Homo sapiens: one gene and its partners. The protein of the gene in region 3 interacts with the protein of the main gene of each other region in a pairwise test. Each region holds a gene or a part of one and is shown on either strand. Other genes may lie near its edges. The genes, in order: TTLL10, C17orf67 and CADPS.

What was found.
Region 1: the proteins of CADPS (region 3) and TTLL10 interact in a two-hybrid assay, tested with the Homo sapiens proteins (one large-scale study listed by BioGRID).
Region 2: the proteins of CADPS (region 3) and C17orf67 interact in a two-hybrid assay, tested with the Homo sapiens proteins (one large-scale study listed by BioGRID).

The regions. Positions count from the first base shown.
Region 1 is NC_000001.11:1,190,755-1,194,484, reverse strand, and holds part of TTLL10 (inactive polyglycylase TTLL10), read right to left. Parts: intron 1-3,730. UniProt on the Homo sapiens protein: Inactive polyglycylase.
Region 2 is NC_000017.11:56,809,795-56,813,524, forward strand, and holds part of C17orf67 (uncharacterized protein C17orf67 precursor), read right to left. Parts: intron 1-3,730.
Region 3 is NC_000003.12:62,487,417-62,490,916, reverse strand, and holds part of CADPS (calcium-dependent secretion activator 1), read left to right. Parts: intron 1-3,500.

The DNA of each region.
Region 1 (3,730 bases), on a different chromosome or scaffold from region 3:
CTAGACAGTAACTGGAACTCACAGGAGGAAATAAAGAGCCCCAGAAAAGGTCATTGTGTAATTAAATATAAGAGACAGCATACATGTATTTTTTTGTATGTGATTGTTTTGTCCTAAAAGACAACTGTATACAACAATAATTATGAATCCATGTTGATGGACACAAATATACTGAGCTGTAATTTGTGACAACAGCATGAGAGGGGTGGGGCTGTGTAGGAGGAGTGTTTTTGTATACTTTTAGGAGCAGTGTGTTTTTGTATGCTTTTGAAATTAACTTGGTATTAATAAAAAACTGAATTGTTTATTTTAAAACATTTTTTATTTTAGAAACAGGGTCTTGTTCTGTCACCTAGGCTGGGGTAATGTGGTTTGATTGTGGCTCACTGCAGCCTTGACCTCCTGGGCTCAAGTGATCCTCCCATCTCAGCCCCCTAAATAGCTAGGAGGACTACAGGTGCACACTCCCATGCTGAGCTAATTTTGTTTTTTAGAGATGGGGTCTCACTATGTTGCCCAGGCTGCTTTCAAATGCCTGGCCTCATATGATCTTCTTGCCTCAGCCTCCCAAAGCACTGGGATTACAGGCATAAGCCACCACACTCACCCTAATTGTAGTAAATTAAGATACAATATTAATGGTAATCCTCAGGACAACCACTAAAATAACTCAAAAACATATAGTAAAATAAATGACAAGGTAATTAAAATGCTACACTAAGCCAGGCGTGGTGGCTCACGCCTGTAATCCCAGCACCCTGGGAAGCTGAGGCGGGTAGATCACCTGAGGTCAGCAGTTTGAGATCAGCCTGGCCAACATAGTGAAACCCCGTCTCTACTAAAAATACAAAAAATTAGCCGGGTGTGGTGGCATGCGCCTGTAATCCCAGCTACTAGGGAGGCTGAGGCAGGAGAATCGCTTGAATCCGGGAGGCGGGGGCTGCAGTGAGCCGAGATCACGCCACTGCACTCCAGCCTGGGCAACAAGAGCGAAACTCCGTTTCAAAAAAAAAAAGCTACACTAGAAAATATCTCTCTAAAACAATAGGAGGCAGTAATGGAGAAACTGAGGAACAAAAAAAGACAGACATAGAAAACAAATAACAAAATAGCATATGTAAATCCTACCTTATCAGTAATTATTATTATTATTATTTTTTGAGACGGAGTCTCGCTCTGTCACCCAGGCTGGAGTGCAATGGCGCAATCTTGGCTCACTGCAAGCTCCGCCTCCTGGGTTCACGCCATTCTCCTGCCTCAGCCTCCCGAGCAGCTGGGACTACAGTTGCTCACCACCACGCCTGGCTAATGTTTTGTATTTTTAGTAGAGACGGGGTTTCACCGTGTTAGCCAGGATGGTCTCAATCCCTGACCTTGTGATCCACCTGCCTTGGCCTCCCAAAGGGCTGGCATTACAGGCGTGAGCCACCGTGCCCGGCCCTTTATCAGTAATTATATTAAATGTAAGTGAATTAAACTTTCCAATTAATAGACATTGACGGAGTTTCTTAAAAAAACATGATATACCATCTACAAAAGATACTTTAGTTTCAGAGACAAAAATAGGTGGAAAGTAAAGGGATGGAAAAAGATGTACCACACACGGTAACCAAAGTAGAACTGGAGTGTCTACACTCATACCAACTGGAGTGTCTACACTCATACCAACTGGAGTGTCTACACTCATACCAACTGGAGTGTCTACACTGATATGAACAACTGGAGTGTCTACACTCATACCAACTGGAGTGTCTACACTGATATCAACTGGAGTGTCTACACTCATACCAACTGGAGTGTTTACACTGATACGAACTGGAGTGTCTACACTCATACCAACTGGAGTGTCTACACTCATACCAACTGGAGTGTCTACACTGATATCAATTGGAGTGTCTACACTGATATCAACTGGATTGTCTACACTCATACCAACTGGAGTGTCTACACTCATACCAACTGGAGTGTCTACACTGATATCAACTGGAGTGTCTACACTGATACGAACTGGAGTGTCTACACTCATACCAACTGGAGTGTCTACACTCATACCAACTGGAGTGTCTACATTCATATCAACTGGAGTGTCTACACTTATACCAACTGGAGTGTCTACACTCATATCACAGAAAATAGACTTTACACAAAAATTATTACTGCAGATTAAAGGAAAATTTTTATAACGATAAACCAAGAAGATCTAATAATCATAAACATACACACACCCAACAACAGAGCCTCGAAATATACAAAAAACTGACAGATCTGAAGGGAGAAGTAGACAACTGAATATCCCGCTTTCAATACAGAGACAGAAGATTAACGAGTAAATAGAAGACTCGAACAACATTATAAACCAAACAGACCTAACAGACATGTTGGGAGCAGGCCCCCCCCCAAAATCTGGCCATAAACTGGCCCCAAGACTGGCCATAAACAAATCTCTGCAGCACTGTGACATGTTCACAATGGCCCTAACGCCCACGCTGGGAGGTTGTGGGTTGACGGGAATGAGGGCAAGGAACACCTGGCCCGCCCAGGGCGGAAAACCGCTGAAAGGCGTTCTTAAGCCACAAACAATAGCAGGAGCGATCTGTGTCTTAAGGGCGTGTTCCTGATGCAGTTAACTAGCCCAACCTATTCCTTTAATTTGGCCCATCCCTTCGTTTCCCGTAAGGGATACTTTTAGTTAACTGAATATCTATAGAAACAATGCTATGACTGGTTTGCTGTTACTAAATATGTGGGTAAATCTCTGTTCAGGGCTGTCAGCTCTGAAGGTTGTGAGGCCCCTGATTTCCCACTTCACACCTCTGTATTTCTCTGTGTGTGTCTTTAATTCCTCTAGCGCCGCCGGGTTAGGGTCTCCCCGACCGAGCTGGTCTCGGCACAGACATCTACAGAACACTACACCCAAAAACAGGATACACCTCCTTCTCCAGTGCACATGGATATTCTCCAGGATAGACCATATGCTGGGACATAAACAAGTTTCAAGTGTTTTTTGTTTTTGTTTTTTAATGATCCACTTAATGAATAGTAAGTTTGTTGTTTTTTTAAAGATGGGGTTTTGCTGTGTTGCCCAGGCTGGACTCAAACTCCTGGGCTTAAGCAATGTTTCCATCTCAGCCTCCTGAGTAGCTGGAATTACAGGTATGTGCCAACACACCAGCTCCAATAATTTTTCAATAATTTTTAAAGGGTTGAAATTATAAAGTATGTTCTCTGACACAATGGAATGAAATTAGAAGTCAATAACAGAAGGAAAATTGGAAAAATCACAAATATGTGGAAATTAAATAACAGGCCCTTAAGCAACCAATGGGTCAAAGAAAAGCTTACAAAGGAAATTTAAAATACTTTGCAGCTGAGCATCATGGCTCACGCCTATAATCCCAGCACTTTGGCAGGCGGATCACCTGAGGTCAGGAGTTCAAGACCAGCCTGGCCAACATGGTGAAACCCCCATCTCTACTAATAATACAAACAAAATTAGCCAGGCGTGGTGGCAGGTGCCTGTAATCCCAGCTACTCGGGAGGCTGAGGCAGGAGAATCGCTTGAACCCGGGAGGCAGAGGCTGCAGTGAGCTGAGATTGCGCCATTACACTCCAGCCTAGGTGACAAGAGCGAAACTCCATCTCAAATAAAATAAAAAATAAAAATAAAAATACTTTGAGACAAATGAAAATGAAGACAACACGCAAAATCTTATGGATGCAGCAAAAGTGG
Region 2 (3,730 bases), on a different chromosome or scaffold from region 3:
TCACACACCCCTTACACATACACCCTCACACACTCACACACCCCTTACACATACACCCTCACACACACCTGCACCTTCACACACCTCTCACACACACCCCTTACACACACCCTTACACACACCCTCACACACCCCTCACACATACTCCTCACACATACTCCTCACTCACCTCACACACAATCCTTGCACAGACCCTTCACACACACACCCCAGACATCCCTCATACACCCTCACACATGCATCCCTCACACACACCCCTCACACACCCCTCACACTTCTGACACACACCCTCACACACCCCTCACACTTCTGACACACACCCTCACACTCCTTGCACAGACCCCTCACGCACACCCCTCACACCCCCACCTCACACACACTCCTTGAACACACCCTTCACACACACACTCTCACACACACCATCACACCCCTCACATACATCCTCACACACATGCATCGCTCTCCCACACTCCTCATGCACCCTCACACACCTTCACATACTCCTCACACACATACCCCTCATACAATTCTCACATTCGAATACACACACCCTCACACACACACCCCTCACACATCCCTCACACACACAAACCCCTCACATGCACAAACCCCTCACACACACCCCTCACACACACCCTCATACATACCCTCATACACACACCCCTCACACACATTCACACACACATACACACATACACAATACTGGCAGCCAAATTCACAGCATGGTGCATCCATCCCACCCTCTTCCCAAGCAAAGGGACATCTGTGCGCAGCTGTTCTTGGCCTACACTCAGAAACAGGGAGGGTGAGGAGGTCTTGGCAAAAGGCAAAGAGCCAGAAGGGCTGGCTCCCAGGAGGCAAAGGCCTTAGCCTCTGAACTCCCTCCTTCCCAGGCTATGAAGATGTGGGCCCGTATGGCAGCTCTAATGCCAGCCTCTGGCCTCCCCTGGCCAGAGGTCCAGGCTTATCGGCTCCTCACCACCCAAGGACAAACCTGAGGCCACTGCCTCTTATGCTCCAACTGGGAGTGCAGGGCCAGGATCATTTTGACAGTCACAGTTAAATGCAGTAAATTACCTCTTTTTACATGCCACTGACTGGCATTATTAATTTTGCTTTCAGTAAATCCATAAAAGAAGAAGTCAACAAGGAGACCCAAGAGGCGTGAGTGGGTCAAATGGTAAGTCGAGGATGTGGAGTACTCCCAGCCGCAGGGCCAGCATGAGGTGAGGAGGCCTGTGGTTTCTAGGGATACCCCTCCAGGGGCCTCAGAATAAACTGCCTGACTCCTCGCTTGGGTTGGTATCCTGCTGCCTCTGGCTCTTCTGTCACATTGCAGACTGGCACCAGGAAACCTGTGTCAGCCCCAAGGTTCTATCCAGAGCCCTACAATATGAGACCTGGAATTAGACATTCTGGAATCTAGGCCAGATTCCAGCCAAACTCTGCATTTTATAGATGAAAAAACTAGGCTTCCAAAAGAGGAAGTGACTTACCCAAAGTCCACAACTAGTTAGCGGCAGAATATGGACTGGAAATGCACTGGGTGGAATATTCTTCCTGCCTCATCCCTACCCCCTGCCCTGCCTGAGAACTCCTGGTCATCCTTCAAGCCACAGCTGGGTGGGCACCTCCTCTGGGAAGCCTTCCCAGCCTCCCCTTTCCTTCCAGTTGGAGCTCGAGACTCTCTTCTTGCAGAGCCGCAGTCCATTGTACCAGATAACCTCGTTAGTGAGCCCAAATCAGGCTGGGGCTCGAGACTCTCTTCTTGCAGAGCCGCAGTCCATTGTACCAGATAACCTCGTTAGTGAGCCCAAATCAGGCTGGGGCACTCTGGCTCCACCTCCACACAATGGGCACCTTGAGTAAGGAAGAATGTCTGGTTTATCTTTCATCCTCAGTCCCTGGTGCTTAGTAGGGCATGGTCAATATAAAATCTAATTAAGTGCACATCTTGATCAGCACGCACCACTTGACCCTCTCACTCTCTCTTTTTGTCTAAACAACTAAGATACTCTCCATACCACCCAGTTCAACATTTAACAGCTTTCTAAATGCTTTTATGTTCCCAACTAGACCACAGGAGCTGGTACACACGTGGCTGATTTCTCCCAGATGGCCTAGCCCAGTGGTTCTCAGCCTCGGCTGCAGGTTGGCATCACTGGGGCTTTGGCCCCATCCCCCATACCCAGGTCCCACCCCAGGCCACCCCTCTGGGAGTGGGACCCAGGCATCGGAATTTAAATTCCCCAGGTGGTTCCAGAATGTAACCAAAGTTAAGAAACACATTTCTAGAAAAAATACGATACCAGAAACTATTTGTTAATTCAACCAATTCTGTGTGTGTTCAAGTGAGTGCAATTATAGAGAGAGACAGAGAGAGACACACACAGCGTGACAGAGAGTAAACAAGAAAAAGTTTACTTGGCAATGTGTAGACTTGGTTCCTCTCCTTTGGCACTACTGACATTTTGGGCCAGAGGGTGGTGGAGGCTGCCCTGTGCCCTGTGTAGGGTGTTTAGCAGCATCCCTGGTCTGTACCCACTGGGTGCCAAAAGCAATGCCCCACACAGGTGTAACCACCAAAAATGTCTTCAGATATTGTCAAATGTCCCTGGGGATGAGGGGGCATAATCACCTATGGATGAGAACTACTGGTGTAGACTAGCCACCCAATAATTGACTGCATGTTTGTTTCACATTTCAATTGTAAAACATATGACCACTTTTCCAAACTGGACTGAATGCCTGAGGATTCTGGACATTGGATGAAGTGTCTCTGAGAGGGACATGGAGGATGGGATGGTGGCTCAGCAATAGGTTCTGAGGCAAGAAGGAGTTACATGGAAACTAATCAGGTAGGTTCGAGGCAGTTAAGAGGAGCAGGTGGTGGTCAAGCCTATAAAAGATGAGCAAAACAAACCAGAAAAAGCCAGATATTCAGTAAAATTGCAAAGTTGGAAGCAAGCAGAGGGCTGTCAAGGATTAAGGGAGGTGATGACCACAAGTGGGAAAAAGCAAACAGAGGAGAAGCTTTCAGAAGTTTTTGAGCAGGGGAAGGACCACACAAAACAGGGTTTTAGGGCCAGAGTCTAGCCTGGCAACAACAGTTGCAACAACGGGCTGCAGCAATTCAAACCCACCTGTTCACCCACATCTACAATGCCTCAGTTAGGACAAAGACTGTTATTCCACAGACAGAGTTCAAAAGAGCCAGGTGCAGATGCTGGCACAGAAAATGTCAGGGGGCAGATGTGGGAGTCATTAGAGCTGCCTCTCGAGCACCTTGAGCAGGAGCCACTGCTTTGAGGACTCTTCAACCAGCTCCCCCAGCCCCTGCCGGGTCCCTGAGGAAGAGCTGCAGAATGGCCGCTCCAGGCATCATGCCAAAAGCACAGGGGGCCAGCCAGAGCCCCCACCCCCAACCCGCCAGCCGCCAACAGGATCCCTCCCTCCAGGCATCCTCCTCCCCATCACAGTTGTGCACATGCTGCCCTTCCTTCACCCCAGCCCCTCCTATGCCTCCCCGCCTTGCTCTGCCACCCCCACTCTCTTGGCTTCTCTATCTCTCTGCATTCCTTCTCAGCCCTTTCAGGGTTCCTCTTCCCCTGCCCACCTCTGAGTGTTGGTGATCCCAGACTTCAATCATGGGCCCCTTCTCTCATTGTCTCAAACTCTCTAACACCCAGATCTGTACTCCCCAACTTGAAAAATCCTTCAGTTGTTCTCT
Region 3 (3,500 bases):
TTTGGAGCCACATAATCTCTGTCACAACTCAACTCTGTCATTGTAGCATGAAAGCAGTCATAGACAGTATGTAAATGAACGAGTGTAGCTGTGTTCCAATGAAACTTTGTTAACAAAACAGGTCCATAGTTTGCCATTGCCTGGTCTAGGCCTTTTAGATGCACCTTTTTAAAAAAAACCTTTATGGCCAAGTATGTTTAGGAAACAATACCTACCCCACTGACCTAGAATTTTGTGTAACTCTGTTTAACCCGGATTTTCCTAAATGTATTTGACAACCGTGTGCTTTTTTTAAAATGGGACATATACCCTGCAGGATAAATTATGGGAAATCTTGTGGGTTGCAAGTTTGTCAATTTCCACAAATGTTTGGCAAATTTTAGGTCTTATTTGAAAATGTTTGGCAGGCTTGGTGCCATCTCCATTCCCCAAATGGGAAGAGGGCTTGACTTGAGGCTCCAGAGGGTCAGTCTCAGACTCCCCTTTCTGAAAAAATAGAGACTCCTATATGGAGAGTTTGATGGTTATGGTTTGATGGTTTGAAAAGCTCCAGTAAAGCCTACTGCTGGATTTGCCTTGTTAGTTTCTTTCTTTCTTTCTTTCTTTCTTTTTTTAAGGAAATCATTTCGTTCATGCTAGTATTTTACATCTTTGGGATGCAGCAAACAGTATGGAGCAAAGTAGAGGGATGTTACAAGCACATTTTAGGAACTCCAGAACAAATATTCATGAGGCCTTTCCTCAGTTTGGAAGCCTTGACTTGCAGCCTATTTTTAAGCAGTTTTCTGAACTGAGACCCTCCTCTAATGTTATACTGTATAAGGCTCTCACTGATAAATTAATGCAAAATAGGCTTTTCTGCCCCCCTTCCACATCTGAGCCACAAGAGGAGTTTCCCTATTGCAGGGAGGTTAATAACCAGTAGCTCCTCCTTTGCAAATACCAAGAAATTTAAATTTTAGTTTGTTATTCTCCAGTTTATAACAGTCTCTTAATATGGCCCTACTGACTTTTCACTCATGAGGGTAGAACTGGATCCCTTGATGGTAAATTATTGAGAGCCTCTATTTTTTTTCAATGTTCAATACAATGAAGACAGTTGTGCTGGAGAATAGCTATTAAGAGGAAAAGGTTAAAATGAGTAATATTTACGTTTTAAAATAACAATGGTCTTGAAATAACATTTACTTACTTGCACTTAAATACGGAGACTACTACTACCAACACACATGGAAGAGAATAATTGGTATCCTTCACTATTCCTTGAAGAGCCCTAGATTTAGTGCCCATTTACTAGCCAGAAGTCAAGGGTTCAAACCTCTATGAACTTGTTTGCTCCCCTGCAAAACTGAAGTTTTAAAAATGTGCCTGTCCAGTGTCTGAGAATTGTCATGGAACTTCGTGATAATGTCACTAAGTCATTTTATAATCTGTTAAATTTCTTAAAAGTCAAACACGGCCGGGTGCGGCGGCTCACGCCAGTAATCCCAGCACTTTGGGAGGCCGAGGCGGGTGGATCACAAGGTCAGGGGATCGAGAACATCCTGGCTAACACGGTGAAACCCCGTCTCTACTAAAAATACAAAAAATTAGCTGGGCGTGGTGGTGGGCACCTGTAGTCCCAGCTACTCGGGAGGCTGAGGCAGGAGAATGGTGTGAACCCAGGAGGTGGAGCTTGCAGTGAGCCGAGATCGCTCCACTGCACTCCAGCCTGGGTGACAGACCGAGATGCCGTCTCAAAAAAAAAAATAATAAAAGTTTAACACATGACTGCTACTTCTTTGGGGGCATTAAATATTCTTAATACCATCAGAAATAAAGATAGACTCAAAAATCATCTTCATACCTGGAAATCTTAGTCTAGGGATGTTTTCTTGGGAATATTTTTACCAATTAAAAAAAAATTTGAACTCTTGCATGGGCAATTTAAAGGTCTGCAAATTGTGAATAAAGGAATAATAGTTGCGAATAATAACCTGAGAATTATGCAGATACGTGTGTGTTTTTTAGTAGCTTTTTGCTATCTAAAATTATGCTGTTAGTGAATATGATTGTGGTTTGTTCAATTCATACTAAATAGTATATGCCTTTCAGAGTCTGTGGAGATCTTTAAAAGTGCCAACTAAGGGCTGGGTGTGGTTGTTCACACTTGTAATCCCAACACTTTGGGGGGCCAAGGCGAGAGGATCACCTGAGGCCAGGAGTTCAAGACCAGTCTGGGCAACATAACCAGACTCCATCTCTACAAAATAAAAAAAGTAGCCAGGCATGGTGGCACAGCATGTAGTCCAAACTACTCAGGAGGCTGAGGTGGGAGGATTGCTTGAGCCCAGGAGTTCAAGGTTACAGTGAGCCATGATCCTGCCACTGTACTCCAGCCTGGGGTGACAGAGTGAGTCCCTATTAAAAAATAATAATAATAAATAAATAAATAAATAAATAAATAATAAAAACAGTGCTAACTAAAATACAAGCTACCACACACACTGTATCAGCCGATTTTTAAACAGAGTGTGGATGCCACGGGGCAGCTTTGCAGAATGGAATAAAATGGAGTGTAAAAAAGAGCTTGGAGACATGTTATGTGCTAAGAGGAGTGACTCTCTCCATGTTTCCTACAACGTGAATAGAAATAAAGTGTGAACTTCCATCTGACTACTTATTGGTGGGTTGATGAAGAAGCAGATTCATTTCTCTTCTTAGATTTTTTTTCCAAGTGAAGAATGATCTTTTTGGCATACTTCTCATCAAGCTCACCCCAAAACAAGAAACTAACTTAGGTAAATAGATTTAGTTTGCTCAGTCTTTTCCATTTTTGCCACAGAATCTTCCAATACATACATACACACACACAGCCTTTCTTTCAAACAATTGTTATCCTCAAGTAGTTCTGTTCTTCTTCTTTTCAAAATTTATAAGCACCTCGTTATAAGTAAAATGAGAAATGCATTGTAATGAAATGCAATGTAATGTTCAAAATAATTAGCATGCAAAATGCTGAAGAAAAATAGCAATCTGACAAGAAAATGCTACCAATGTATTGAGTTTGCTAAAAAGAGAATGAAAAATATCCTTTATTCTTCAGATTTTCTTATTTCAAAATATGGCCCTGTAAAAGAAAATAGATATCATCATTTAGGCTTGATACAATTAAGGTTATTTAAGATGAACAACAAAAACAACAACAACAAAAATAATTGAAGTTATTTGACGGAAAGGGTAAAATGGCTGAGTCCTATGGCAGCCTTTCCCTAGAAAGACAGTCTTCCATCTCTTCGAAAAGAGAAAAGGGAAGCTACATCTCTGTTTCCGTTAAGCCAGACACAGTCATGGTTAGAATCTCTATGAATTGGTGGACAATGTCATCTCTTTGCTTCTAACCATAGCTAAAGATAGTCAGCTTCTCAAAGACAGTCCCAAGTTGTCAATAAAATCTGGAGCCCATGGCCCTCTCATGGGTTTCCATCAGGACATGTAGTAGGGTCACCACTCACAGTTGG